Linked DNA regions of Homo sapiens. The protein of the gene in region 7 interacts with the protein of the main gene of each other region in a biochemical or structural test. Each region holds a gene or a part of one and is shown on either strand. Other genes may lie near its edges. The genes, in order: RHO, PLCB1, FSHR, PDE6G, GNA15, HDAC6 and GRK2.

Region 1 (4,481 bases), on a different chromosome or scaffold from region 7:
GTGGGCTCAAATTCAGCAAGGGGTAAGAAATGGACCCTAGCAAGACTGAGGAGGAAAGGGAAGTGAGAGTGGGAATTTTCTGGAGACAGAGGGACATGAGGCCTCTGGGGACCAGAGTCACCAGTCCTATTGTCCAAACCACTGTCCCCACTGTGTCTCATCTCAGCCCCATTAGGAGACAATCGCCTAGAGGCTGAGTGGGACCCAGTTCCAAGGGGCCACAATATGGCCACCTGCACTAGGAAGGTGTGGCCTCCCCTGCTGCTGAGGCCCAAGGTTAGAGGGGGCTGCCCCCGGGGTACTAGACCAAAGAGGATTGGAATTTGCGCCTAGCTTAGTTGAGGATTAGGGGCACAGCCAAGGTGAAGGGTTGGGATGTCTTGGATTCTGTTTGACATGGGGCTCAGGAGATGGGACCAGCCCTTGTAGCAACATTAGAGTCTGTTTCTTCTTCTGCCCTACACCCCTACCCTGAGTGGGCATTTGGGCCAGGAGACATACAAGGTCAGTGCCTGGAACCAGACACTACTGGGTTTGAGTCCTGACTGGAGGACCCTACAAAGAGCCCCCGGAGCTTCTTCCCTTCTGCTCAGTGCCATTACCTGGACCAGCCGGCGAGTGGGGGTGCGGCGCAGGCCAGCGCCATGACCCAGGTGAAGGCAACGCCCATGATGGCATGGTTCTCCCCGAAGCGGAAGTTGCTCATGGGCTTACACACCACCACGTACCGCTCGATGGCCAGGACCACCAAGGACCACAGGGCAATTTCACCTGCAAGGCAGTCAGCAGGCGGTCAGCACAGACCCCACTGCCTAAGGAGGGTGCACTCCCCCCTAGACAGGGAGAGGGTAGCTAGGAAGGCAACCAGGAGTGGGAGAGGGATTTGAGGAGGCCTTGGGGAAGGAGAGAGCTTGGTGCTGGGAGGAGGGGGAAGGGGCAGAGGGACCACACGCTGAGGAGAGCTGGGCAAAGAAATTCCAGGGAATGGGGGAAGTTATTTGCTTAGCGCTCTGGGCCCATAAGGGACACGAATCAGATCAGGGGGTCAGGATTGAACTGGGAACCCGGTAGGGAGTTTTGTGTGTGTGTGTGTGTGTGTGTGTGTGTGTGTGTTGTGTGTGTGTGTGTGTGTGTGTGTGTTTAGCAGAAGAATGCATCCTAATGTGGGGCAGAGTTCCTTGTTGGGAAGGAATGCAGAGGTGGTGGAAACCCAGAATTGGCAGTCCTTCCTCCCTCTCCCTTCTCGGGAAATGAAATAACCCGGACATGTGGGGGCCTCTCCTAGGAGCCATGAAGCAATGTGCAATGTTTTGCCCAGAGGAAGAAGAAGGAAATGATGGAATTCAGACATCTGTCCTGCTCACCACCCCATGAAGTTCCATAGGGAGAGTGGCCATATAGTTAATCAACCAAACTGGGACATTCCTAACAGTGAAAGGGACAATATTTGTAAACTGGGACTGACCCTGCAGAGAACAACCACCCGTAAGTGGCACACCCACCTTCTGGCCAGAACTGAGTGATCTGTGATTATTGAATGCAACAAACACCCAACAATGGCCAGAGATTCCCTGAGAATGGGACCGAGGCAGCAGCCTGGACATGGGGGAGACAGGGCAAGGCTGGCAGAGAGACGCTTGTGGCTGGCGGTAAGCTCTCCCCGTCACCCAGCTTTGCAATGGCTGCTTCTAGCGTCTCCTCCTGCATCTCAGCAGAGATATTCCTGGATCACAGCCAGGAGACCTAGGCTCTTGTTGCTGCCTGGCCACATCCCTAAATGAGTCTCTTCCCCTCTCCCTGCCTCAGTTTTCCTCTCTGTTAAGTGGGATCTGTTATCCCTGCAGCACCCCATCTGTTTTCCTGTTAAATGCAAGACATTATTCTAAAGCAAAAAGGAACTGCTTCAGAGCGGCTGCTTGCGGTTCTCAACACCAGGAGACTTGGAACGCGGCAGGGAGGCTGGAGGGGCACCTGAGGACAGGGGCTGAGAGGGGAGGCAGAGGATGCCAGAGGGGACCGAGCCCATTGCCCAGCACAGGGAAGACCCAATGACTGGAGAATGGAAAATCCACTTCCCACCCTGAGCTTGGGCCCCCAGAGAGGAGGGGTCTGGCTTGCCCAGCTCTCCCTCAGTGCCCAGCCTGGGTCTGACTCAGCACAGCTGCTCCAAGGGAAACAGAGGCTTGGTGCTGCAAACATGGCCCGAGATAGATGCGGGCTTCCAACTCAACTCTGCACCCGTCCCTGTGTGACGCCCCAGCAGGGCGCTTGACTTCTTTGAGCCTCAGCTCAGTTTTCTTGCTGTGAAATTAGACAAGCGCATATTGCTCCAAATAAGATCAAGGCAGTGTTCAGTGCCAGCCCTGCACAAACAGCAGCCCGGCTATCACCATGAATGGTGTTTGTTGACTGAATATATGAGGGCTTTGGATAACATTGACAGGACAGGAGAAGGGAGAAGGCCTCTCAGCCACCACCGCCAAGCCCGGGACTCTCCCAGACCCCTCCATGCTCCCGGGCTCCTGCACACCCCACCCACACCCGGCTCATACCGCCCAGGGTGGCAAAGAAGCCCTCCAAATTGCATCCTGTGGGCCCGAAGACGAAGTATCCATGCAGAGAGGTGTAGAGGGTGCTGGTGAAGCCACCTAGGACCATGAAGAGGTCAGCCACGGCTAGGTTGAGCAGGATGTAGTTGAGAGGCGTGCGCAGCTTCTTGTGCTGGACGGTGACGTAGAGCGTGAGGAAGTTGATGGGGAAGCCCAGCACGATCAGCAGAAACATGTAGGCGGCCAGCATGGAGAACTGCCATGGCTCAGCCAGGTAGTACTGTGGGTACTCGAAGGGGCTGCGTACCACACCCGTCGCATTGGAGAAGGGCACGTAGAAGTTAGGGCCTTCTGTGCCATTCATGGCTGTGGCCCTTGTGGCTGACCCGTGGCTGCTCCCACCCAAGAATGCTGCGAAGGCCTGAGCTCAGCCACTCAGGGCTCCAGCTGGATGACTCTGGGTTCTGACCCCCCCAGACCCTTATAAAGTGACCTCCCCCTCCTAAGCTCCTGGCTGAATCAGCATCTGGGAGATTGGGGGTGTTCATAATCATATTAATCCCCGCTGCAGAAACTGAGGGCCTAATTGGCTTCTAAGAGGGGCCAAGGTGACACTAGGAGGAAGCCTGAGGTCAGGGAGGAGAGGTACTCAGGATCCAGGAAAAGGGAGGAGAAGGTCCCCTAACTTCTGCATGACTTGTCTGTCCCAAGGTCCCAGCTCAGTCTGGTGGCCTGGGTTTGAAATAGGGACCATGGGCCTCTGTGCTATGTCCTCTGGACAGCTAGAGACTTTCTGGTTTATTCTCCCAGTCTCTCATCTCGTCACACAGCCCCTTACCTGTTCGTTCCCCCACAAGTTACCTCTGGAGTCATCCAGTCCCCACACTCCTCTGACAGGAGGAGCTCCATGAGGGCAGGGGCTGCAACCTGCAGCTTCCGTTTCTGGTGCCAGACACATAGCCTAGGGCCCAGGAGCCCAATCCTTGTTGCATGGAATTGGAATTCACTCTCTTGTTCGTTCATTAAACATTTATTTGCAGGCCCCTGGGAATACAAAGATGGAAAGAAACAGCCCTGCCCAGAGGAGCTCAGGGGCTGAGGAGGACTCAAATGTGGGAAGAAGCAGATTCCGTCCAGGGTGGCTGTGAGGTTGTGGAGACAGGGCCTGACTGCCTGGGGGTTGCAGTCTGGGAGGCCATGTTTGGGCCTTTGAGAGAAGGAGCAGTTTGCCAGGTGGCTAGGTGGGGAAGATCTGGGCTGGGGGCAGTTGTAATGGGTCTTGAACGCTAGGCCGGGGAACCTGGCTTTATCCAGAGGAAAGTGAGCAGTGGCTTGGGCAGATCACTGGTGTAGAAAGGTGACTCAAATGCCCCCAAAGATGGAGTGGAGGGAGGGAGGATGGAGGGGGCTACCAGAGCAGGGGAGGGGCAGAACCCTTCAGGGGACTCCAGTCTGAAGGGGAGGCTGGCCCTGGAGGCAGCAGACAGGGCACTGTTGGGGGAGGCCTAATCAGCCACGAGGGCCTCAAATGCCATGTACCAGGTGGCCCCACGAGGGCCGATTCCAGAATAGCAGGATGTACCGTGAGAAAGAAAGTAGTCAGAGCCTTGGGGGCAGATGACTGGGGGAAAATGGAGGCCAACACTGGCAGGTCCCCCTCTCCCCGTCGTCCAAGCAACATGATGACACCTCCCAGGAATGAAGTGGGGTGTCTGGGGCGGCCTGTGCAAGTGCTGAGAGTGCCCGACGTGCGGCCGCTCAGTGACCACTGTCCAGCCAACATGTGTATTGAGCACCTACTGTGGCCCAGACAAGGTGCTTGGTCCTTGGGGACACACAGGGTACACGAAAGAGCAAGCTCCTGCTCACAAGAAGCCAGTGTTTTTGTGGGGTGAGGGGGCACAGGGACCACAAACAAATAGAAGAGCGAAT
Region 2 (3,875 bases), on a different chromosome or scaffold from region 7:
GTTTCTTGATAAATGCATAGATTTAGTCAACCTCAATTAATAGGTACATGCAAACCATTTTTGGAATACAAATTGAAATAAAAATTTTGAGAATTAACACATGGTAATGATAATAAAATCGAACATTAGCTCTTAAAGAGATCAGAGGAAAACCAGAGAGACTCTTAAAGAACATAAGCATCCTTTATAATCTATTCCAATTAGTTAGTTCCTTTATATCCTATTTCAGTTAGTTAGTTACAAAAATCAATGGCTTTTTTATGGTCATATATGTAAATGACCTCAGAAATATGTCTATATTTCCTTTGCCTACTTACACATAGGGGCACAAGGCTCTGCTTAGGGGGATCAGACATAGAACAGAAAGGGAAAAGATTAGATGGAAAAGACTGTGAAATATGCCTGAGCATTTGGAATTTATGATATGATCTGAAAGGTTGCATGAACCTAATTATTAGCTCCAGTAACAAGAAGACCAATGATTTCAGTTACCAGGGGTTTGTTATTTAAGTGGAGACCCATAGCGTTAGTCAACAATTCACCAGCAATCCCCTTCCATTTTCTGCTGGCGATTCTTGTTCATGATAACATGAAACAATTCTGATAAGGAAACATTTACAGTTTACCAAATCCCACATAAAAAAGTAAAATGTTCCCATTCCATTTATATACCATTGCAGATAAATATAACTTGAAGCTATTTACTGATAGGCTAAACTTTCAAATGAAACTAATAGCCACTGCAAATTATCCTCATTCACCATAGGTGGGGAAATATTAGTGTTAAGCAAGATAAGAGAGAAAACCTATGAGAGAAAATTATATTCCAGCAACAGTACTGTACTAGTCAGCTTTGCCATGCCAATAACAGCCTGAAGGCATTACATTTCCTCTGTAAATTACTAGGGTTTTGTTGAACTGTTTGCTCCTTCAGGGCATTTACTATACCTGCTATACTTCCCAGACTTGGGACAGACAAGAACCCAATCAATGGCCATCTAAACTGACTGTAAGTCACTTTTGTTGCTGTTGTTCAAGAGGATCAGTTCAGCAATAATAAAAATGTTTTAGGCTGAAGAGGTTTTTTTTAAAGTTTTCATTCAAAGTAAAAATAGCTTATTAGATTAAAAACAAGCAAAACCAAACTATAAAGTTAGAAGTCAAGATAAGGGTTACCCTTAGAAGGGGACGTAGGGACTGGAAGAGAGCACTCAGGAATTCTGGGGCAAGTGATGCTGTTTCTTGATCTGGTACTGATGACATGGCAATGTTCACTTTGTGAAAATGGATCCAGCTGGACACAGGATTTGTGTGTTTTGTTGTACGCATGTTACACTGATTTTTTAAAAAGTTTCAAGTAGTTTTATTGATTTGCTTGCAAAAGAGTTATGCTCTTACACTTAGATTACAGTAATTATTGACTGCCAATGAGAAATTCTCAAAGCTCTTTGGACAAGAAAAATGGACATAACTGGGCAAATTTAAGTGGCTCCTTAGAGGGCATCTGCTAGCCTTCCATTCTAAAATCCACCTTGCACTTTGTAGTTGCTCCATCCACATCAGCCAGCTACCAACTCAGAGAAGTTTCCTCCCTGTTTCCCATAACCTTTCCAAAGTGAACGCTACTAAATTCCCACCTCGCAAACCCTTTTCCCCTCTGCTCTCTCATTAATCTTGTGAGTGTCATCTTGTCATCATTTACTTGTCATCATTTTGGAAACTGGAACAGCAGATTCCACATAATGCAAAAGTTCTAAGCTTTTGTGTAGGATGCTGGGAAGTGTGCAATATACTAGTATTTCTTAAATTACCTGTTTTAGCTGTGGGGGTTGGAGGTGTGGTAAAGGAGGGAGTTACTTGATTCAAATCCAGATGGCATTAACGCAAATCCAAACTTCTGAGTTTCATCAGACTTCTCAGACAACTTAGTCTAGCAATTATTTTTCCATGTTAGAATATGCTTGTAAGACAGAACGTGCAATGTTAAATTATATACACATATATACATAAATATATTTTATATGGAATTTAAGTAAAAATAAACTTTTGGATTATTTGTAAACTGACTTGCTGTAGAGAATGGATCCTGCTCTAAATTACGTACTTATTTTCCGTGAAACACCTGGATTTTTAAAAGAAGGTGAGAAACCTGATTTTTCTCCAAATTATAAAGTATAAAATCAAAACACACATTAAAGGGAATGGAAGTAAGGTCTGAATTTTTCCACTAGTAGAATAAAAGAGCCATAGAACACCTGCTAATCACCTTGATAAAATTCACGTCCATCTTATTTTTGAGGGACAATAACTTTTTTTTTTTTTTTGAGACAGAGTCTTGCTCTGTCGCCCAGGCTGGAGTGCAGTGGCGCGATCTCGGCTCACTGCAAGCTCCGCCTCCCAGGTTCACGCCATTCTCCTGCCTCAGCCTCCCGAGCAGCTGGGACTACAGGCGCCCGCCACCACGCCCGGCTAATTTTTTGTATTTTTAGTAGAGAGGGGGTTTCACCGTGTTAGCCAGGATGGTCTCGATCTCCTGGTCTTGTGATCTGCCCGCCTCGGCTTCCCAAAGTGCTAGGATTACAGGCTTGAGCCACCGCGCCCGGCCGACAATAACTTTTAAAAACATGTTTTATTGAAGGTTGCCTGTATGTCAGGCTTTATACAAAGCAATGCATATGCATTCATTTATTTAACCTCAACAGCTGTTCTGAGTTAGGAAATATTACAATTTGCATGTTACCGTTGAGGAAACTGAAGTTGGGATGCGTTAAGCAACCTGCCCACAGTAAGATCTGAATTTGAAAGGTAAGAATGAAGAAACAGAAGGAATAAATAAATGAAAACCCTTCCATCCCTCAGAGGTTGTGCGACAGTGAGACAGAGTGCTTAGGCATGGAAAACAGGGCCAAATCAGTGGCTGGGGGTCCTATTGTACAGTTTACAGTCCTTGCTCTTTCTCTCCATGTCCTGCCCAATATAGACCAAGGCCAAGATCCAGAAGAGAGAGGAGCTTCTCTCACAATCTCCCAAGCTCCCTAGCTTAGATCAAGAAAGTAACTCTCCTTCCACTGTCTACCTCACCAGAATTCTCCCACAAATACCCATAGTCCTTTACACCCACCTCCTACCACCAGAGCCTGCTAACAGACAAATGCAAAACAAAAGCAAAGACATGAGGTTGAATTTTTTAAATATCATTAGGTCAGTCCTTTATCTTCATGCCAAGTTCAGAAGGACAGGTATAGCCTTGATGTTCAGACAATATACACCATGAGTTTTAAAATACTGAAATAGTCAAAAAAACTCCAGCTACCTACCCACCCATCCACAGACCCTGGGGACTCCCAGACCTCCCCATGACCAAGCAGCAAAAATATTAACGCCTGGCCCTGGTACAACAGGGTATCTCCAGGATCTATTACCCCCCTGCTGTCTGTTGTGATTGTTTAGTGCCTATGTTAAAGCTTTCGACTACCACCCTTAGAGCATCCACAGCCTCACTGTGACTTGGTAGGTGGCCAGCAAATTATGCATGGCACTGCAACCTCTGGGTGACATCTTCCATTCCATATGGTGGTCAAGACAACAAGACCAGTGATTATACTGCTTTAATCACTTCAGGAACAAGAGATAATTTCTTCACATCCTAAACAGCCCCAAATTCATCATTTTTGAATGTCCTGTAACATTACCACGCTTTTACACAAGAAGCAGCAAAAATACAGAGAAGCTAAGTGATTTGCCTAAAGTCATGCAGCTTACTGGTGAAAGAACTAGGAGGTAAACTCAGGCCTTTGATTCAAGATCTGGTTCTTTTTTGTCTTCAACACACTGTCTCACTAAGGTACAATATAAATAGCCAGATAACTTGAACT
Region 3 (3,875 bases), on a different chromosome or scaffold from region 7:
CTTGCATGTATTACCTATTCAAAGGATTAAATGAAATTTAAGTTTGAAAGGCATACTTAGGCAGAGCAGCCTGGATTCTATAACTGTAAGGTCTTTACACACATCATTTGTGTGTAGAGAAGCAATGCGGGGAGCGACAGATCTTTCTCATCCTGAAGGACAGGAATCGTACAATTATTGAACAAGTGTTTATAAGACAGAGAAAGAACATTTTGTGTCACCTTTCTCTAAGGCCTTAAGCCTTTCACCCATGATCACCCACAGCAGCAGGCCTGGCTGTCATCAAAAGTGATCTAATTAAGTTGTCAGACAACCTGAACATCTCCTGTGACCCATAGGGACCTGGTTATTGGAGGTTTGTGGAGGTGGCTCTGGGTTAAGCCAGAAAGGAAGAGAAATCAATTACAGAGAATGTGGGCTGTGGCAGGGTGAGGTGATCTGAATGAGCAGGGGAGGAGGTTCTGGGGGAGGTGGAGATGGGTGTAGAACAGCCATCCTGATTGCGCTAAGAAGGTCAGTGAGCAGGGTTCCCTGGACAGGGGAGCCCAAGGACACCTTGGGCTACAGCTCTGCCTTGCTCTGCTCCTGAGTGGATCTGAAAACAAAAACAGATACCAAGGTCAGGAGAGCTTAGCCCGAAGAACCTCTGACTACCTGCTCTTGTTTTGCTGTCAGGTTCTTTTCCCTGTCCAGCTTAGTGGGCTTGCAAATAACACTGTACAGAAAGCTGACCCAGAGAAGCTCCTGTGCATCCAGGACTCTCTTTCCTGGGCTGCCATGGGTAGCCAGAAAACACTTAAAATCACAGGAGAACAACTGTATGTCTTTTTCCTCCTCTTGAAAACCAATTACCTAAAAAAATCCAGAAAGGGGCGAGGCAAATCTTTTAAAACATTCACAATCAATTGGTGGGTTCTGATGGCAAAGAAGTGGCTATGCACCCCCAATGCCATTTGAGAAAGCCTCTCCCAGGCACATCTGGACTCCTGACTGTTGCAGGATAGTGGGAGTTGCTGAGGTAGCTGTGGCATGTGGATCCCTGGGGATTTGAATCAAATACAGGATTCAGCAAACTTTTTCTGTAAAGGGCCTGATAGTAAAGTTTAGGTTTTATGGGCCAAAAGGCAAAAATAAAAAATATTATATAAGTACTTTATGTACTTATAAAACAATTACCACAATTTTTTATTGACCAAATTCAAAGTGTAATAATTGGGTATTTTTTTTTTTTGTAATATAGGCCTAATATTGAGAAGAGAATTTTTAGTGGGGGATAACATTTTGCTTAACTTAGATCTAATGTTAGTGTTTCCTGTCTTAGCTCATGAGCTGGATTTGGCCTCTGGGTTATATGTAGTTGGCTGACCCTTAATCCATACAGGTTCCACCTATTTGCCTATTGACTAGATAATTAATATTTCTTGCATATTACTGTCCTGTAAATCGATGTTGCTATAATCAAATAAAACATAAACTAATTTTAAATAATTATTGTATTCAAATATCCCTTTGTCTTTATGGATTATCTCAATCAACAGATACCATTATATGGGGAGGAGGATGGTATTTCTTGATATCAGCAGTGGATCATCACACAAAAAAAACAAATTATGTTCAGAACTGCTGCCCTTGGATTTACGTTATCTGTGGGAATCTCAAGCTAGTAACAAAGGGAAACCCACATTTATTACACGCACCCCTGGTCTCTTAAGAGAGGAAGTACCTATTTGAAAACCAGATGATGACGATGATGACGATGATGACGATGACTACAACAACCTGGGCAGAACATCAACTAAGGAGTTACTGCATCACAGGCTTACCTTAACCCTTTTGTGTCCTTGGGGATGAGGCCAGTGTGCTCACTCAGCAGAGGCTCAGGAAGCTACAGAAGTGAACTTTGCTCTCATCCTAAAGAGTGGAGGTGCTGGGGACTTGGCCCTTTAAAACTCATTGAGGGGCAGGCAAGGGAGACGGGCAGACTGAGGAACAGAGGAAACACGCACGAAGCAGGTCTCTCCTGAGGCCCGAGTGTGCTGGGCACTGTAACGCATATCACTCATTTTATTTCTTCTGAATTAGGACATTATTCTCCTGGCTGGCCATAGCTAGGTGCTTTCCCCATTCAGGCACTCTGCTTACCAGGGCACAGTGCGGGTGCAGAAGGGCTCAGAAGCCTCTACACAGTGGGTTTTTATTGCTCACTTCTCTGATTCACTAGGCTAGTGTCTGATAATCTTTCATTGCTGGTTGCTTTAAAAATACATTTACTTTTAGAACAGGGCCTCAGAATTTTTTTCAACTTTCAGTTTCAGGGGAGCAAGTACAGGTTTTTTTTTTTTTTTTTTTTTTTTTTTGAGACGGAGTCTCGCTCTGTCGCCCAGGCCGGACTGCGGACTGCAGTGGCGCAATCTCGGCTCACTGCAAGTTCCGCTTCCCGGGTTCACGCCATTCTCCTGCCTCAGCCTCCCGAGTAGCTGGGACTACAGGCGCCCGCCACTGCGCCCGGCTAATTTTTTGTATTTTTAGTAGAGACGGGGTTTCACCTTGTTAGCCAGGATGGTCTCGATTTCCTGACCTCATGATCCACCCGCCTCGGCCTCCCAAAGTGCTGGGATTACAGGCGTGAGCCACCGCGCCCGGCCGCATGTACACGTTTTTTACATTAGGTAGTCTGCACGTCATGGGGTTTGGTGGACAAATAATTCCATCACCTGGGTAATAACCATAGTACCCAATAGATATTTTTTGTGATCCTCTCTCTCCTCCCTCAGGTAGGCCCCATTGTCTGTTGTTCCTTTCCTAGAATCCATGTGTTCTCATTGTTTAGCTCTTACAAGAGTGAACATATGGTATTTGGTTTTCTGTCCCTGTGTTAGTTTGCTTAGAATATTGGCCTCCAGCTCTATCCATGTTGCTGCAAAGGGCATGATCTTGTTCTTTTTTATAGCTGTGTAGTATTCCCAGAATTTTGAAAATTGCTATCCATAGAATACTTCAACAGTCATCAGCGCCATTTGCCATGCTTTTTTTTTTTTTTTTTTCTGAGTGTGCTCAAATGTCCCCATGGGAAGAAAACACCCCTGCATCGAAGCTGCCAAACTAGAAACGATTGGAGACTTAAGTTGTGTTAAGTATGAATTACATGATTTTATTGTCTATGGATTAAGGGACAGCCAAAATAAGAACAATAGAAATTGTTTCCACAAAAGTGAGTTTATCCTTTAGAGACATGTCTGAGAAACATTCACTCTTAAAAGAAAACTCCTTTCCTGAAAAGTGTGTTCCTAAATTCTGAGAGATCAGTGTCCATGAACAGGAGTTAGGAAAGAGCAGACAGGATCTATATGTTTCCCTTGTAGCTTTGGGTTTGCAAAGCTATGTCAGAAGTTCTTATTTCCTCAGGTTCTTTGCCTCTAGTTGGGGAGAGTTGAGACCAGGTCACTTAAAGTGCTTTGCCTTCTGTCTTACGGTCTGGACAAAAAAGTCAGATCAATGATACTGTGAGAACAATATAAGCACACTATGCAAAACTACAAGAATGATATGAGCACACTCCCACTTAATTATATATTTTCTATAAAAAAATTGAATAAGTTTGCCATATTATAACATTCATTTAAGTCTATTTAAAATGAACATATATTTCAAGAAAGATCCAAATAAACATAAACATCTAGGTATAAATGTTTACATTTATCACCAATCTCCCTCTGTGAAGTAACCCAGGAATCCTTTTACTGTTGTGTTTGTTTCACAATCCAGCAGGCCAATATGACTCATGTATTCACTATTTTCCACAAGCTCTTTGTATTATTATTTTTATTTATTTTATTTTATTATTATTACTTTTTGAGATGGAGTCTCACTCTGTT
Region 4 (3,959 bases), on a different chromosome or scaffold from region 7:
TTCTCCTGCCTCAGCTTCCCAAGTAGCTGGGACTACAGGCGCCTGCCGCCACGCCTGGCTATTTTTTTTTTTTTTTTTTTTTGTATTTTTAGTAGAGACGGGGTTTCACCGCGTTATCCAGGATGGTCTCGATCTCCTGACCTCGTGATCTGCCTGCCTCAGCCTCCCAAAGTGCTGGGATTATAGGCGTGAGCCACCGCACCCAGCCTATTGTTATTTTCAAATACAGACAGGGTCTTGCTATGTTGCCCAGGCTGGTCTTGAACTCCTGGACTGCAGTGATCCTCCCGCCTTGGCCTCCTAAAGTGCTGAGATTATAGGCATGAGCCACTGTGCCCAGATACAGCCAGTTTTAGTGGGCACTGTCTAAGGACGAGCTGGCTGGGTGCTCTGGGGGAGTTGCTAGTGTCACTGTGCCTCAGTTTCTCTCTTGTGAGGTGGGAGTAGGAGCTCCGGCCTCACGGCGTGTGGTGTAAGCCATGTCCAGTCTCACCTTCTCTGTGTGGCCTGTTCCAGCCACCTGCATGCTTCATTGACTATGGCCCCTGGGTGTGCACCAAGGCCTTCTGCCTTGACCCAGCCATGGCCTGACATTGCGTGTCTTGGGGCCACCAGCAAGGCTCAGTGAGAGTGTGAGCCCAAGGGCTGTCTTCCCACTCAGGCAGGCCAGCCCCTCCTGCCCCACTGCCCACCCCTTCCCCCATGTGCTCCGGCTCAAGTGACCCCACCACAGGCCCTGTCCCATGCACAAATATGCCACAGACAGGCAAGGACACACTAATTTTATTTTGAAATAGGGACTGCAAGGGCAGGCTGTATTGAGAAGGATGGCCCCCTGGTGTGATGAGCTTGGGGCCTCATCTGCTCACCGTGCACGCCCTGGAGTCCTGCTACCCAGCATGTCCAAACTAAGGGCACCCCCCTGGGAAGGGATGCAGAGACGGGGAGCTTCTCTGTATCCCCTTACAGGCAGGACAGGGGGCTGGGGTGCAGAAGCACTCTGGGGAGACCTGCCCTAGCTTTCCAGCTGGGAGGAGGGGACGATCTGGGGTCCAGCAGGCTCCCGGGCTGGGGTCCACTTCCCGTTCTCCCTGGGAGTGGAGACCGACCAAGCCTCTCTGTGGGCAGGACTGAGGGGTGGGCCTGTATCTCCAGATGTTGAGCAGGGCCTGGCCAGCCCCTGAGGGGGCATCCTAGAGGGAGGTGGTGGGCTCCTGGTGACTGGTATTAATATGTAGGGGGAGACCTGAGGTTGCAGTCCCATCCTGGTGTCCAGGTGCCATCTGGGCTAGGGAGGCATCTCCTCAACAGGAATCCTGAGCAGGGTTTAGAGCACAGTGGGCAGGAGGGGGAGGGTCTGGACTTCAGCAGGGCCTCGTGCTAGATGATGCCATATTGGGCCAGCTCGTGCAGCTCCAGGTGGTTGAAGGCCTCCCAAGGGCAGATGACTGTGATGTCTGTGGGAGAAACGGGCCACGGATCAGAGAGGATCCCACGGCCTAGGGACCCCCCCATCCCCTGTGGCCCTGTTTCCCACAGCCCAGGTGTAGCCCTACAGTGTGCTGAGCGGGGACGTGCGGACGCTGGAGTGGGGCCCTCCTCTGGGGACACACTGGCTGTGGGGGAAGGAGGGTGGGTGCAGCAGGTCCAGGGGAGGGAACCAGAGGAGGGTGGGGCTTGCTGAAGGGGGAGGAGGCAGCGAGGGGTTCTGTTCTTTCCCAAACCCCTCCCCTCACCTGGTGCAAGTGTCCCAAATGGGGACAGCCCCACCCTCTAGATCCAGTGGATCTGGAGCTCAGTGTTGGGGGAAGAAGTGATGGACAGGCTGGGGGTCCCTAAGTGAAAAGCAGGGGAGGTGGGGGCCGAGGTGGGCTGCAATGGGCCCCGGGCGTGCTGGGTGTGCCTGGGGGGACCTGGGCAGACCTCGGGTTGGTACTGGCAGCCGTCATACCTGTTCCCAGGCCTTCCATTCCAGGGATGTCGTCCCCAAACCTGCAAGGACAGAGCACTCAGGGACATGGCCGGGCCCAGTCCTGGCTCAGTCAGCCTGAGGCCCGAGGTCATCTCTAGCCTTCCTAGGAGATGAGGTGTTTGGCTGGGAGCCCAGTGGGCAGAGACCCGCCTCCTCCCCAACCTCCCAGGGCTTGGCGCATCTGAGGAGGCTTCCCTCACAGACCCAGGGTGAGTCTGCTGCCCAGAGCATCATGGGGCTGAGGCCTAGAAAAGGAGGTGCAAGTCCCAGGATGCTGGGCAGGTGCGTGCCCTGGGGGAGTACGGGGGGGTGCGTGGTTGGTGCATGGTCTGAGTGTAGATTTGTGAAGGTGGCTTGTCTGTGAGTGTGCCTCACGTGCATATGTGGAGGTGTGAGCGTGTTTGTGCATAAGAGTGTCATGCCCGTGTGTGCGCACACGTGTGAGTGGACACTCCTCGGTGCGTTGATGGGAGCGCGGTGCCTGTGTGCGCACACGAGTGAGTGGACACTCCTCGGTGCACTGATGGGAGCGAGATGCCCGTGTGTGCGCATGTGTGAGTGGACACTCCTCGGTGCATTGTGCCATGGCTGTCCCTGGGTGGCAGTGGTTGTATTTTTTTTATTTATTTGAGACGGAGTCTCACTCTGTCGCCCAGGCTGGAGTGCAGTGGCGTGATCTCGGCTCACCGCAAGCTCTGCCTCCCGGGTTCACACCATTCTCCTGCCTCAGCCTCCCGAGTAGCTGGGACTACAGGCGCCCGCCACCACGCCCGGCTAATTTTTTGTATTTTTTAGTAGAGACAGGGTTTCACCTTCTTAGCCAGAATGGTCTCGATCTCCTGACCTCGTGATCCGCCCGCCTCGGCCTCCCAAAGTGCTGGGATTACAGGCATGAGCCACCGCCCCCGGCCGTTTTGTTTTTTTGAGACGGAGTTTTGTTCTTCTTGTTGCCCAGCCTGGAGTGCAATGGCGCGATCTCAGCTCACCACAACCTCTGCCTCCTGGATTCAAGCGATTCTCCTGCCTCAGCCTCCTGAGTAGCTGGGATTACAGGCGTGCACCACCACGCCTGGCTAAATTTGTATTTTTAGTAGAGACAGGTTTCTCCATGTTTGTCAGGCTGGTCTCAAACTCGCGATCCTAGGGGGCTACTTTGGCAGGTATTAAAACTTTTTTTTAGGCCGGGCGCGACCTCAGGTGATCTGCCCACCTCAGCCTCCCAAAGCGCTGAGCCACCGCGCCTGGCCGGCAGTGGCTGTATTTTCAAGCATGGTTGGCAGTAGCATCTGGAGCGGGTGACAGGAGCCCCCAATTCCCCTTCCCCCTCCTCCATCCCTGCTCAGGCCCTCAGGCACCGCCCTACCTTCCCCAGCTGTGAGGCTGGGACCACTCACCCAGTGAAGTGGCCCCAGGCTCTGCCCCGCCCTCCCCTTCCTGTGCAGCCTCAGGACCGCCTCCTCCCTTTCAGAGGCCCCATCCCCCAGCTCTGCTTACCCTTGAACGCCTTTCTTTGGGGGCTTGCTCTTGAACTGCCTGGTCTGTCGCTGCTTAAATTTAGGGGGCCCTTTCCTGGGGGTGACAGGTCCCCCGGCCACCCTGGTGGCTGACCGGAACTCAGCCTTGGGCGGTTCCAGGTTCATGGTGAGGCTGACGGAGACACCGCGGCAACCTTGGCTCCTGGACTCCCTCCTGCTGCGGTCTGGGGGCAGACCAGGCCCGGGTCCCAGTCAGCCCTCCTGCTTCCAACCCTTGTGGGGGTCTCAACCCACCGGTGGAGGGGCTGAGACCCAGCCCCGCCAGCTCCAGCGTCATCCAGACAGCAGCCCCTGCAATCCGCCCTGGGGTAACCAGCCTGCCAGCTTTGCTTGGGTCCACCCGCACGCTCCCATTCCCCTTGCCTAGTGGATGCCCCCCTGCAACGCTGGCCACACACAGCTCCGGACTCCCCCCTGTCCTGGCCTCCCTCGCCCCGGCCCACAATCCACAG
Region 5 (3,875 bases), on a different chromosome or scaffold from region 7:
GAGATGGGAGAGGGAGGCAGGGAGAGACACAGAGAGAGAGGCCAAGAGTGCCAAGAGCACCAAGGCACCAGACATATGGGGGAAGAAGCCATCTTGGAAGTTTATCTCCAATCCCATAGAGCCCAGCTGATGTCACATGGATCAGAGATGAACTTACCCAGCTCAACCTTTCCCAAATTCCTGACCCACAAAATCATAAGCAAAGGAAAATGACCAGTTTAAGTCACTAAGTTTGGGGATGGTTTGTTACTCGGCAGTAGCTAAGCAGGACACCCGCCACCACACTTTATCCTCACAGTGGTGTTCTGGGGAAAGTGCTAGTGAATATGTACCTTCCCCACGTTGGTCCCTGGATTAACCACAACTCTGCCTCCCCTTTGTAAAATATACTAAGTGGTGCCCAACACTAGATGGTGTTTCTCTGTAGTTGCCCTGTGGCCCTTTCACCCTCTGGATGGACTGAGAGTTTGTTCCCAAACCTGTTTTTGCCCATTGTACGTGTCTTGATTCATATGTAATTAAAAGAAACGTTATGCAAATCTGTAGCTACAAGTGCCGCATGAAAGAAGGTCATTGTATTACAAAACTAAGCTGTGTGCTTTGGAAACATTGTTCAAAGCTCTGCTTTAAAAATTAAAGAGAAAGGCCAGGTGTGGTGGCTCACGCCTGTAATCCCAGCACTTTGAGGCCGAGGCGGGTGGATCACCTGAGGTCGGGAGTTCAAGTCCAGCCTGACCAACATGGAGAAACCCCGTCTCTACTAAAAACACAAAATTAGCCGGGGTGGTGGCTCATGCCTGCAATCCCAGCTACTCGGGAGGCTGAGGCAGGAGAATCCCTTGAACCCGGGAGGCGGAGGTTGCGGTGAGCCGAGATTGTGCCATTGCACTCCAGCCTGGGCAAAAAGAGCAAAACTCCATCTCAAAAAAAAAAAAAAAAAGAAAAGAAATTAAAGAAAAAATAGACTGGGCACGATGGCTCACGCCTGTAATCCCAGCACTTTGGGAGGCCGAGACAGGTGGATCATGAGGTCAGGAGATTGAGACCAACCTGGGTAACATGATGAAACCCCATCTCGACCAAAAATACAAAAAACTAGCCAGACGTTCTGGCGGGCACCTGTAATCCCAGCTACTCGGGAGGCTGAGGCAGCAGAATGGTGTGAACCCAGGAGGCAGAGCTTGCAGTGAGCTGAGATTGCGCCACTGCACTCCAGCCTGGGCAGCAGAGCGAGACTCCGTCTCAAAAAACAAACAAAAAAAAATTAAAGAAAAAATGGATTAAAGAAAAAGAAATTGCTATCCAATTAGGGATAGATGAGATCACTATGAAAGATTAGAAAAAGAAACGTTATGGCCAGATGCGGTGGCTCACGCCCGTAATCCCAGCACTTTGGGAGGCTGAGGTAGGTGGATCACTTGAGGTCAGTTCGAGACCAGCCTGACCAACATGGTGAAACCCCATCTCTACTAAAAATAGGACAGGAAACTACTAAAAATTAGCCAGGCTTGGTGGCACGTGCCTGTAATCACAGCTACTTGGGAGGCTAAGGCAGGAGAATCACTTGAACCGGGGAGTTGGAGGTTGCCATGAGCCAAGATCGCACCACTGTACTCCAGCCTGGGTGACAGAGTGAGACTCTGTCTCAAAAAGAAAAAATAGAAGAAAGAAAGAAAAGAAAAAGAATCATTCTTAAAACCTAGGCAGATTCTGGAAATAGTAGACAATCTTTCCAGAAGTGCTTTACAACAGTGACCTCTACATAGCAAACCCATGCTTGAAGGATCTTGGCTCAAACCCCAAATGTTGGCCAACAAGCATAAAATAAAATGTTTGGCCGGGCATGGTGGCTCCTGTCTATAATCCTAGCACTTTGGGAGGCTGAGGCGGGTGGATCAGGAGGTCAAGTGATCGAGACTATCCTGGTCAACATGGTGAAATCCCGTCTTTTCGTACTAAAAACACAAAAATTAGCTGGGCGTGGTGGCGCGCACCTGTAGTTCCAGCTACTAGGGAGGCTGAGGTAGGAGAATCGCTTGAACTCTGGAGGGAAAGGTTGCAGTGAGCCGAGATCACGCCACTGCACTCCAGCCTGGTGACAGAGCAAGACTCTGTCTCAAAAATAAATAAATAAATAAAATGTTTAAGGTGTACGTGATATGCTACGTGTTTTTAGAATTCCTCACTTTACTCAGTTCCAAGGGCCTCTGCTATTTTATTCCATTCCACAGAAGGGAAAACAGATTCAATGAGGTCGGGCAGTGGATGGAGCTGAGTCTAGAACGCGGGTCTGATCCTATGTGAAAGTTCCGGTGACTCCAGGCTGAAGTAGAGTCTGGATTAGCATCTCTCTTCGGAGCTGCTTTTGGGAGTTGAAGGGTATAGAAAGTTCTAGAATTACTTACCCTGGAAACTGGGGAAATAGGTAGCCAGGTGGGAGGTGGGGATTTTCTCCTCCAGGATGTCGGTTTTGTTGAGAAAGAGGATGACGGATGTGCTTTTGAACCAGGGTAGTTCCAGGATAGTCCCAAACAATGCGAGGCTCTCCTTCATGCGGTTCTGTGTTGGGGGCAGAAGCAGGTTAGTGCTTCAACCAGCCAGGTGGGACAGGAAACCCTCCCATCGCGGAGACGGGGCTGTTGGCTCCAGGGGCATGGGCTCACCCCTATCTGCCTGGCTGGGGCTGAGGCGGGTGTGCCCGTGTTTCCATATGGACAGCTGCCTGGGTGTGCCTGACATGGTTTTGTGCCTGTGCTGGTTGGAAGTGTGTCCTCCCGAAATTCATGTCCCCCCAGAGCTTCAGAGTGTGACCTTATCTGGAGAGAGATTCTTGAACTCCTGGCCTCCCAGCGTGCTGGGGTTATAGGCATGAACCACTGCACCTGGCCTGGAGATAGGGTCTTTGAAGAGGTCGTTAAGGTGAGGCAATACTAGAATACGGTGGCCCTCAAGTCCGTGACTGCTGTCCTCATAAGAAGAGGGAGACCTGGCCGGGCGCGGCAGCTCACGGCTGTAATCCTAGCACTTTGGGAGGCCAAGGCGGGCAGATCACCTGAGGCCAGGAGTTGGAGACCAGCCTGGCTAACATGGTGAAACCCCGTTTCTACTAAAAATACAAAAAATTAGCCGGGCATGATGGCAGGTGCCTGTAAACCCAGCTACTCGGGAGGCTGAGGCAGGAAAATCGCTTGAACCCGGGAGGCGGAGGTTGCAGTGAGCTGAGATCGCGCCACTGCACTCTAACCTGGGCGACAAAAGCGAGACTCCATCTCAAAAAAAAAAGTACAATAAGGTCTCAAATGCCTTGTGTTATGGGGTACATCATATTTCCCCAAAATTCATACGTTCAAGACCTAACCCCCTAGAACCTCAGTTTGTGACCTTCTTTGGAAACAGGGCCATCACACGAGGAATTAACCCAGATGAGGTCGTACTGGAGTAGGGTGGGCCCTGATCCTAGACGACTGGTGTACTTATTAAAAGAGGCTATTGGCTGGGCACAGTGGCTCACGCCTGTAATCCCAGCACTTTGGGAGGCCGAGGCGGGCGGATCACGAGGTCAGGAGATTGAGACCATCCTGGCTAACATGGTGAAACCCCCTCTCTTCTAAGAATACAAAAAAAAAATTAGCCGAGCGTGGTGGCGGGTGCCTGTAATCCCACCTACTCCGGAGGCTGAGGCAGGAGAATGGTGTGAACCCGGGAGGCGGAGTTTCCAGTGAGCCGAGATCGCGCCACTGCACTCCAGCCTGTGCGTGTGCGTGCATGTGTGTGTGCACGCATGTGTGTGCCTGTGTGCCTGTGTGTGCGTGTGTGTGCCTGTGTGTGCGTGTGCATGTGTGTACTGTGTGTGTGCATGTGTGTGTTCATGTGTG
Region 6 (3,872 bases), on a different chromosome or scaffold from region 7:
GCAGATCCAAAGATGCACACCGGCGCCCAGGGTGACAGAGCGGTGCTCACACCCTTTCCCTCCCTCCCAGAGTCAGCCATACACAAGCCACCAGCCTCCTAGCTCACACAGAGGGAAGGCAGCTACCTCCCAGTCAGAGACATACACACAAACAGCCAGGGCAGACAGCCAGACAGTGACTGCTGTCACACACAGCCTTCCACATCCAGAAGGTCCCACACAGGCTGTCACAGAGATGGTTGCATTTAGTGACATACAGTATCACACCCATCACACAGAGAAAAGGTGAGAAATACCTGCCTGCACAGAGTCGCACACGCACATACTCAAGCACTTGTGATGGCACGCACATACAACACAGATCCAGCCAGGACACGGGCCATTGGTGCATAGTCAGAAGGCCCTCACACACACAGCCAAGACAGTCACTCACACAGTGTCACACAGAGAAGGCAGTCATGTACAGCCATCTGTGCACAAATACACAAGGTGATCACAGCCACCAACTGCCCTGGTAGCCTCATTAAACACCCATGCGCTGTCTCATATCATCAGCCACATGGTAGTCACACACACACATGCCAAGGAGGCAGGTCCAGGCTGCCACCTGCACAGGCGTGTCACATACGTCCTGCGATCTATCCTGAGCTGTACCTCGTAGGCAATGGGAAGCACCAGGCGATGCCAGGCAGCTAGGTAGTCAGCATCACCCATGCGGGGCCCGTTCCATGCCACGTTGACGGTGAAGCCTGTGCCCGCAGCCCGGCCGATCTGGCTGCTGGCACCCTCATCCCCCATGGGGAAGAAGGTGCCATGATCATAGCGGTGCAGGGACACATATAGCACACTGCCAGGGAGGGGGTGGGAAGCGGACCATGGCTGGTTAGGGGCTCCAGTACCCCTGAGGTGCTCACCCGCCTCCCTGATCACACTGCGGCCCCTGACTGCAGCCCTTACCTGGGGTCATCCTCAAACATGTGCTGAGTTCCATTACCGTGGTGGACATCCCAATCCACAATCAGGATCCTGGGGAGGAGACAGCACCTCAGTAACCGACGATACTCACGCCCTGGAAGAGGGCTGGGCTAGACCCCTGGGGTCTGCAGGGGCATTTAGTGCTGAGTGGCAGGACCCTGGGTCCTATCAGTTAAGGAGAAAAGTCTGATCCTGGTTCCCAAGGGCTGCCCGGTAGGCCTGAGCAAGTGCTCGGGGCTGGGCCCTGGGCTCTTCTGGGTCATTGCTAGGGAACTGGACCCTGGGCCTTGGGCAGCTAATGCTGGGGGCTGGTTCGTGGGTCTTCTGGAGTATGCATCAGGAGCCTAGACCTGGGTTCTGTCGAGGCAGCTGCTATAGGCCAGAAATGCTGGGGTGGGACCCTGGATCCTGTTTTGTAAGTGCCCAGGTAACATGATCTGGGGGTCCTATCTAAATAAGCACTGAGAGGCTCCATCCTCGGTCCTTCTCTGGGTAAGGACTGCACCCTTACTTCTTTCTGGGGAAGGAAGTCCTGGGAGCTGGACCATGGGGCATGAGTAAACAATGGGCTGGGGGGAGCATCCAGGTCCCCACAAGGATCAGGATTTGGGGGGTCCCCAGGGAGTCCTTACCGTAGGGCATGCCCACTGATAGTCTGGGCATGGCGAGCAGCCACAGCCACAGAGTTGAAAAAGCAAAAACCGCAAGCTGCATCCTGCTCTGCGTGGTGTCCTGGGGGACGCACCACAGCAGCACCATTCAGAACCTGGGAAGCAGCAGGGTGCTAAGATCGGACAGCCTGCCCTCACCTTCCTTTCTTCCTTTTTTTTTTTTTTTTTTGAGACGGAGTCTCGCTCTGTCGCCCAGGCTGGAATGCAGTGGCGCCATCTCGGCTCACTGCAAGCGCCGCCTGCCAGGTTCCCGCCATTCTCCTGCCTCAGCCTCCTGAGTAGCTAGGACTACAGGCGCTTGCTGCCACGCCCGGCTAATTTTTTGTATGTTTCTTAGTAGAGACGGGGTTTCACCATGTTATCCAGGATGGTCTCGATCTCCTGACCTCGTGATCTGCCCACCTCGGCCTCCCAAAGTGCTGGGATTACAGGTGTGAGCCATCACGCCCGGACCTTTTTTTTTTTTTGACACAGGGTCTCACTCTGTTGCCCAGGCTAGAGTGCAGTGGTGCAATCATGGCTTACTGCAGCCTTGACCTCCTGAGCTCACCTCAGCTTCTCAAAGCGCTAGGATTACAGACGTGAGCCACTGCACTTGGCCACCCTTCCCTTTCTCCAGTTCCTTCCATTATTCCCCCAGCCTCTAGGCCCACCCCCTCCCGTGCCCCTCCCCATGGCCCCTTTCCTCAGGCCCTGCTTGACTCTCTCAGAGCCTCCAGAAACAGCAGATGGCTCTCTTTTTCCATTCCCCCCAGGTCCTCCTCTCCCCAGCCCACAGAGGACACACCTCTCCTGAGAGCACAGCCTCCACCAGGCGGCAGGCAGCGCCAGTGGCAAGCTGTGCACAGGCGAAGGTACTGGGGCAGATATAGATGGAGTCAAAGTTGGAACTCTCACGGTGCAGCTCCCGGGTTTTCATTTTCTCTGTGGCCCGGAGATGACCCACGTACTCAGCACTGGAAGCACAGAGAGGAGCACCCGCAGGACAGTGAGGAGGGTCTGTCCCCTCCCTGGTCCCCACCCCTAAGACAGGGACTTCAGCCCCTCTCAAGTCCTGCAGCAGCTCCCCAGGAGGGGAAACCCAAGTTCCAGCCCCTGAGACCTCATCCACAGTCCTGGGAATCCACCCACCCCAGGCACCGGGGTCTGACCTGTGACAGGTGAGCAGCTCAGCCTCTGTGGCAGGGCGCGGTGTCAGGGTGAGGCAGCGCCCGGCAAGGCCCAGCTCCTCCAGACGGCACATGATCCGCAAGATGCGCTGGGGTACCTCAGGGTGGTGGCTAGCAGTGGGGAAACGAGAGGTAGAGGCTTAGTGCCTGAGGGGGAGGGACCCCCAACACCTACTCATCCAGCCCTCCAAATGCCTACCTGTCCCACAAGTTGCAGTGATTCATCATATTTTGGTCATAGACCAGCCCTGTGCGAGACTGTAGCACTGGCCATGTCAGGATTGGGAGCACAGGGGGCTCCCAGGGTCCTTCCTCCTCGCTCTCCTCTACATTGTCCTCCTCCATGTTGTCCCTCTCCACGGTCTCAGCTAAAAGGGGGAGGCCACGTTTGTCCTACCCTCTCAATCTGAATCCCCGTCATACTCTGGAACTCAGGTGACCCAAACAGAAAAAGGGGTGGGAGGCCTGAAACCAGGGCCCAGGGAGAGAGAGAGGGCCTGACCCTCTCCCACCAAGGCAGCCCAGTAAAGTCAGAGGAAGTCTGAAGACAGTCTCCCCCAGGGCTCATCCCACGTCCACCCCACACCAGGCCCACACCCCACTTCCTACTTGATCTCACAAGAACCTCCCAGAAGGGCTCAAGGGCTTCCAGAGCACAGGAAACTGAAGCCTGGGCACTGCAGGGCAGGGAGAAAATATGATGTCAAGGAATGTGGGCGGGCAGTGAGGCTCCCGCTTTCCCCTCCTCCACCGGGGCTCACCTCCGGCAGGGGGCACCAGGTGACTCCAGCATGGGGCAAGGGTCTCCCAGAAGGGTGTGGAGCGAAGCACTGACGCCTTCAGCCAGGGCGCGGAGGTTGTAGCCACCCTGGGGCAAGGAGTTGTGAAGGGGGATCAGGAAAGGACCAGACATGACCAGGGAATAATAATAATGATGATAATAAGAGAGTGCATACCACATGTCAAGCAACAAGGAACTTAGAAGGGTGCCTCACTGAATTCACTGGACAATGATATGAGGTGATTACATTATGCTCGTTTTATAGAAGGAAAGCGG
Region 7 (3,875 bases):
ATAGGGGAGGGCCTGGCCATTGTGACCCTCAAAACCCAACCCGACATCCCCCACCCTGTTTATCTCACCCCACACTGAGTGCTGTCTGGGAGCGCCACACCAGGCTACACTCCCGGCCTCAAATACCACCTTACTGTCCCCTCCTGCCCTCTCCTGGCCCACCTCAAGCCCAGCCCTGCCGGTCTGTCCCAACAGCCAGCTGAGGCCTGCATCTGGTCCTCACTAGTCTGGGCTCCTGGGGTAACGTGTAGCTGCCATGCTGAGGGCATTGCAAGGCTGGGGGCCTGAAGGGACAACACACCTGAGCCCATGTCACGCTCACATGGCCCTGCAGGTCTATGGGGCCACCAGCAGGCCTCCCGTGAAATGACTGCAGCTGGTGGAGATTTGGATCCGCAAGTCCAGGTTCTCTGTGCTTGCCATGGCCCCTGCCTTTCTGCACCCCGGCCCTGCCTGCCCCTAGGAGCCCAGCCCAGGGCTGGTCGGACTGGCCACCCAGGCTGTGGTCACGAGGACCCGCTGCACATCTACCCCTGAGGCACTGTGTACCTCATGCCAAAGCCACCCCCTGCTCCAAACAGCCCTGCCCAGGGCATGGTTCTGAGCCTGTGATACCAGACAGCGTGTGCAGAAGCCTTGGGAAGGAGAGGAGGCCTCTGGGTCTGGAAAGCCTGTGTGGAGAAGGTGGAACTCCACTGGGTTCCTGGAGTGCAAGTGGGATCTCGGCAGCTGGCGAAGCCAGGGGGGTCGGTAGACGTGGGAACAGGCAGGGGACAGTATGTCCAGGGATGAGCAAGGGGCCAATGGGGCAGGAGAGAGGGCACACAAAGGCCATGGTGAGGCGGAGGGCAGGGCCTTGCAAACCAGGGGGCTTCACAGCCAAGGAGTGGGCAGGAGAGCAGGACTCAGGAGGCTTGGTCCAGGGCGGTGGGTGGCCCGACTCCACTGGAGGCGCCACGCGGAGGAAGCCCAGGCAGAGGCAACACTTGGGCAGGAAGAAGGGGAAGGGGGTGGGTGGGAGAAGGCTCAGGCTGTCGGGGACCGGGAGAAGGGTTATGAGGCCAGCCCCGTGAGGGCTTCCAGGCTTTGGGCCCGAGGGTCTGGAAGAATGGCAGCTTCAGCCAGAAGAGCCGTCTGCGGAGAGCAGCTCCAGACAGTGCGGACCTGGCCTGTGGACCCTGCCTGGCCTCTGACCTCGGCCTCGAGAGGGGGCTCTTATCCGCTTCCACTGGGCACTGTCCTTCCAGGAAGGGCTGCAGTGGACTCCCGGGCCTCGGCCCCTGATCTCACTTGGTTCCAGCCTTCCTCAGGAAAGGCCGAGCGAGATAGCACGAGCACAGCAGGGCTGCCATGAGCACGGTTCCAAGGCCGCGACCCCCTGGCCTGCTCCCCACCCTCAGAGGCTGGGAGGGGCCGCGGCCTCTTCCAAAGTTGTCTCCAGCAGGAAGCAGGGCACTGAAGACAAGGATGGGCCTAGGTGACCCTGAGTTCGCATCCTATGACTGCTTTGGAACAGACCCTGCCTGGATGGGAAGAGGGGGGCCCATGCCCCCCACCGGGGAGTGAGGATGCCCTCTGAGAACTGACAGGAGCTCCGAGGATGGGCCCCGCGTCCACACCAGCACACCCGCCCCTTCGGGCCACACGCCAGCTCATGTCCACCAGCCACCGTCAAGGACATGTTTCCCGGCATGTGGGACTCCCAGGGACACAGGAAACGGTGGACGGAGATTGTGGTGTTTCACACACAGCAAGGGCTTCATAAAAATCTCTTGAATTGAGAAAGACACGGTCCCTGCCCTTGGCACCTGCAGACAGGAGGCCTGGGCCCTGGGCGACCCTCAGGGCACAGGCTGTGCACTGGGAGACTGGAACGTGGAGAAAACCCCAAGGTCAGGGGCCTGCATCTCACCTGGGAGGTGGGCCAGGACATTTTGGTCCACAGAAGGGGATGAAAAAAAGCAAAAAAAAAAAAAAAAAAAAAAAAAAAGGTGCTGGTCAAGCGGAAGGTAGCGACAGGCAGATGCAGATGACAGGCAAAGCAATCCCAGCCTGTAGGGGTCACCCACCAGGAGCCGGGCATTGTCCCAGGAATGGGGGCCACCGGGCTTCAGCAGTAAGCCCCACTGAGCCCCAGACTTGCTTCTTAGGAGCCTGCAAAAATGGTGCCAGCTTGGCGGGACGCGGTGGCTCACGCCTGTAATCCCAGCACTTTGGGAGGCCGAGGCGGGCGAATCATGAGGTCAGGAGTTTAAGACCAGCCTGACCAACATGGTGAAACCCCGTCTCTACTGAAAATACAAAAATTAGCCCAGCATGGTGGCGTGCGCCTGTAGTCCCAGCTACTCAGGAGACTGAGGCAGAAGAATCGCTTGAACCCTGGAGACAGAGGTTGCAGTGAGCCAAAATCGTGCCACTGCACTCCAGCCTGGGTGACAGAGTGAGACTCTGTCTCAAAAAAAAAAAAAAAAAAAAAGGTGCCAGTTTGGCAGAGGGAATGGCCACCTAGGAGCCAGGGAGTAGCCACTGCCACTTTTCAACTGGACACACAAAGTCTCCAAGGGGGAAGCATGCTTGGTTCCCTGCCTGCGACAGCCAGGGGAACCTGCCGGGCAGGCCCTTTCTCCTTCCCAGGGGCTCTGCTGTCAGCCCCGGCCTGGGAACAGCAGGAAGCAGGACCCGGGGCTCTGAGGCCATCTCTCCCCTCAGCAGCCACGCCTGGGCATGGCCACCACATTCTTCCCAGCCCACAGCACTCCACTTTCTTCCTTAAAAAGAAAAAAATGTTTTTTAAATAAAATAAACAACCCCCCTCCCCCCAAGCAAGAAACCAAACACGAGGTCAGGCCTGAGCAGAGTCCTTGAATGGAAGGCCCCCAAAGTGGCAATTTTAGGGTTTCCTGTCTATTCCCATGGGTCTGGCCGCCAAGGGAACTGGCAGGTTGGAAGAACTTGCCACTGGGGGCAGCTCCTGCCAGGGTGGCAAGCACGGGCGAGCACAGGGGTGGGACAGCCTCCTGGACTGGGTCACCTTGTCTCCAACACTGCTCCCTGATACTGGCAGAGTCTGGAGTGGCAGTGAGCCCAGAGCGTGTCCCTGTCCCCCACCCAGGTCAGCAACCCTGAGATCCGGGGGAACGTGGCTCCCAAGATCTACTCTGGAGCATCAGGAGAACCAAGCGGCCTCAACAGTCCCAGATGGAAGGACGCTAAGGTTCCCAACACCTTTGGGCAAGGGCCTCAGAGTTGCCTTTGCTCTGGCCGTTGGACGGGTGCCTGGGTTCCAAGTGGCCCTCACCACCTGGTCACAAACTTGAAATGTCCAGTTTCCCCAGCTGTAAAATGAGGATGTCAATGAGATGCTGAATCGCCACCGTCACACTGGCCATTTACAAAGCCTGGGTGGACACGGCAGAAGGAGGGCTTCTAATATGCCAGGCTGGCCATGCTGCCCGCCGTGCCCCGCCTGCTGGGCCATGGGAGAGAGCCGCCAGAGCCCCATTTCTCAGTGCCCCACGGCTCACCGACAGTCCATGCTAGAATCACACAGTAACTGGTCTTGCTCAAGCCTCTGCTCCACATTTGCCGTGTCCTCGGAGAGGATGGGGCCTTGGAGGATGGGGCCTGTGGCCAGGGCTGAGCCGAGCAGGGTGGGACTCCTCTGCTCACAGACCAGCTTCAGGCACTGCATTGCTCTACTGCGGGCCCAGTGGGTAGAGCCCGTGGCTTGCCCTGCCAAAGTATCAAGGGCTCCTTGGCACAGAGGTACTTGGTGCCCACCCAGCTTTGGGAAGGAGCAGTCAGTCCCACCTTGGCACCCCTGCAGTTACAGCGGCCTGCACCAGCTCCTACTGCTCCCGGAGCAGGCTCAGCCC

What was found.
Region 1: the proteins of GRK2 (region 7) and RHO form a complex in vitro, tested with the Homo sapiens proteins (one study listed by BioGRID).
Region 2: the proteins of GRK2 (region 7) and PLCB1 form a complex in vitro, tested with the Homo sapiens proteins (one study listed by BioGRID).
Region 3: of the proteins of GRK2 (region 7) and FSHR, one has a biochemical effect on the other in vitro, tested with the Homo sapiens proteins (one study listed by BioGRID).
Region 4: the proteins of GRK2 (region 7) and PDE6G form a complex in vitro, tested with the Homo sapiens proteins (one study listed by BioGRID).
Region 5: the proteins of GRK2 (region 7) and GNA15 form a complex in vitro, tested with the Homo sapiens proteins (one study listed by BioGRID).
Region 6: of the proteins of GRK2 (region 7) and HDAC6, one has a biochemical effect on the other in vitro, tested with the Homo sapiens proteins (one study listed by BioGRID).

What each region holds. Positions count from the first base shown.
Region 1 is NC_000003.12:129,527,166-129,531,646, reverse strand, and holds the start of RHO (rhodopsin), read right to left. Parts: upstream 3,009-4,481; 5' UTR 2,914-3,008; coding exon 2,553-2,913; intron 772-2,552; coding exon 603-771; intron 1-602. UniProt on the Homo sapiens protein: Photoreceptor required for image-forming vision at low light intensity. Required for photoreceptor cell viability after birth.
Region 2 is NC_000020.11:8,135,075-8,138,949, reverse strand, and holds part of PLCB1 (1-phosphatidylinositol 4,5-bisphosphate phosphodiesterase beta-1), read right to left. Parts: intron 1-3,875.
Region 3 is NC_000002.12:48,983,368-48,987,242, forward strand, and holds part of FSHR (follicle-stimulating hormone receptor isoform 1 precursor), read right to left. Parts: intron 1-3,875. UniProt on the Homo sapiens protein: G protein-coupled receptor for follitropin, the follicle-stimulating hormone. Through cAMP production activates the downstream PI3K-AKT and ERK1/ERK2 signaling pathways.
Region 4 is NC_000017.11:81,649,694-81,653,652, forward strand, and holds the end of PDE6G (retinal rod rhodopsin-sensitive cGMP 3',5'-cyclic phosphodiesterase subunit gamma), read right to left. Parts: intron 3,672-3,959; 5' UTR 3,613-3,671; coding exon 3,467-3,612; intron 1,993-3,466; coding exon 1,952-1,992; intron 1,458-1,951; coding exon 1,381-1,457; 3' UTR 766-1,380; downstream 1-765.
Region 5 is NC_000019.10:3,156,412-3,160,286, reverse strand, and holds part of GNA15 (guanine nucleotide-binding protein subunit alpha-15), read right to left. Parts: intron 2,560-3,875; coding exon 2,406-2,559; intron 1-2,405. UniProt on the Homo sapiens protein: Guanine nucleotide-binding proteins (G proteins) are involved as modulators or transducers in various transmembrane signaling systems.
Region 6 is NC_000023.11:48,815,195-48,819,066, reverse strand, and holds part of HDAC6 (protein deacetylase HDAC6), read right to left. Parts: intron 3,684-3,872; coding exon 3,577-3,683; intron 3,493-3,576; coding exon 3,425-3,492; intron 3,184-3,424; coding exon 3,015-3,183; intron 2,927-3,014; coding exon 2,798-2,926; intron 2,603-2,797; coding exon 2,434-2,602; intron 1,742-2,433; coding exon 1,608-1,741; intron 1,027-1,607; coding exon 958-1,026; intron 848-957; coding exon 655-847; intron 1-654.
Region 7 is NC_000011.10:67,272,611-67,276,485, reverse strand, and holds part of GRK2 (beta-adrenergic receptor kinase 1), read right to left. Parts: intron 1-3,875. UniProt on the Homo sapiens protein: Specifically phosphorylates the agonist-occupied form of the beta-adrenergic and closely related receptors, probably inducing a desensitization of them. Key regulator of LPAR1 signaling.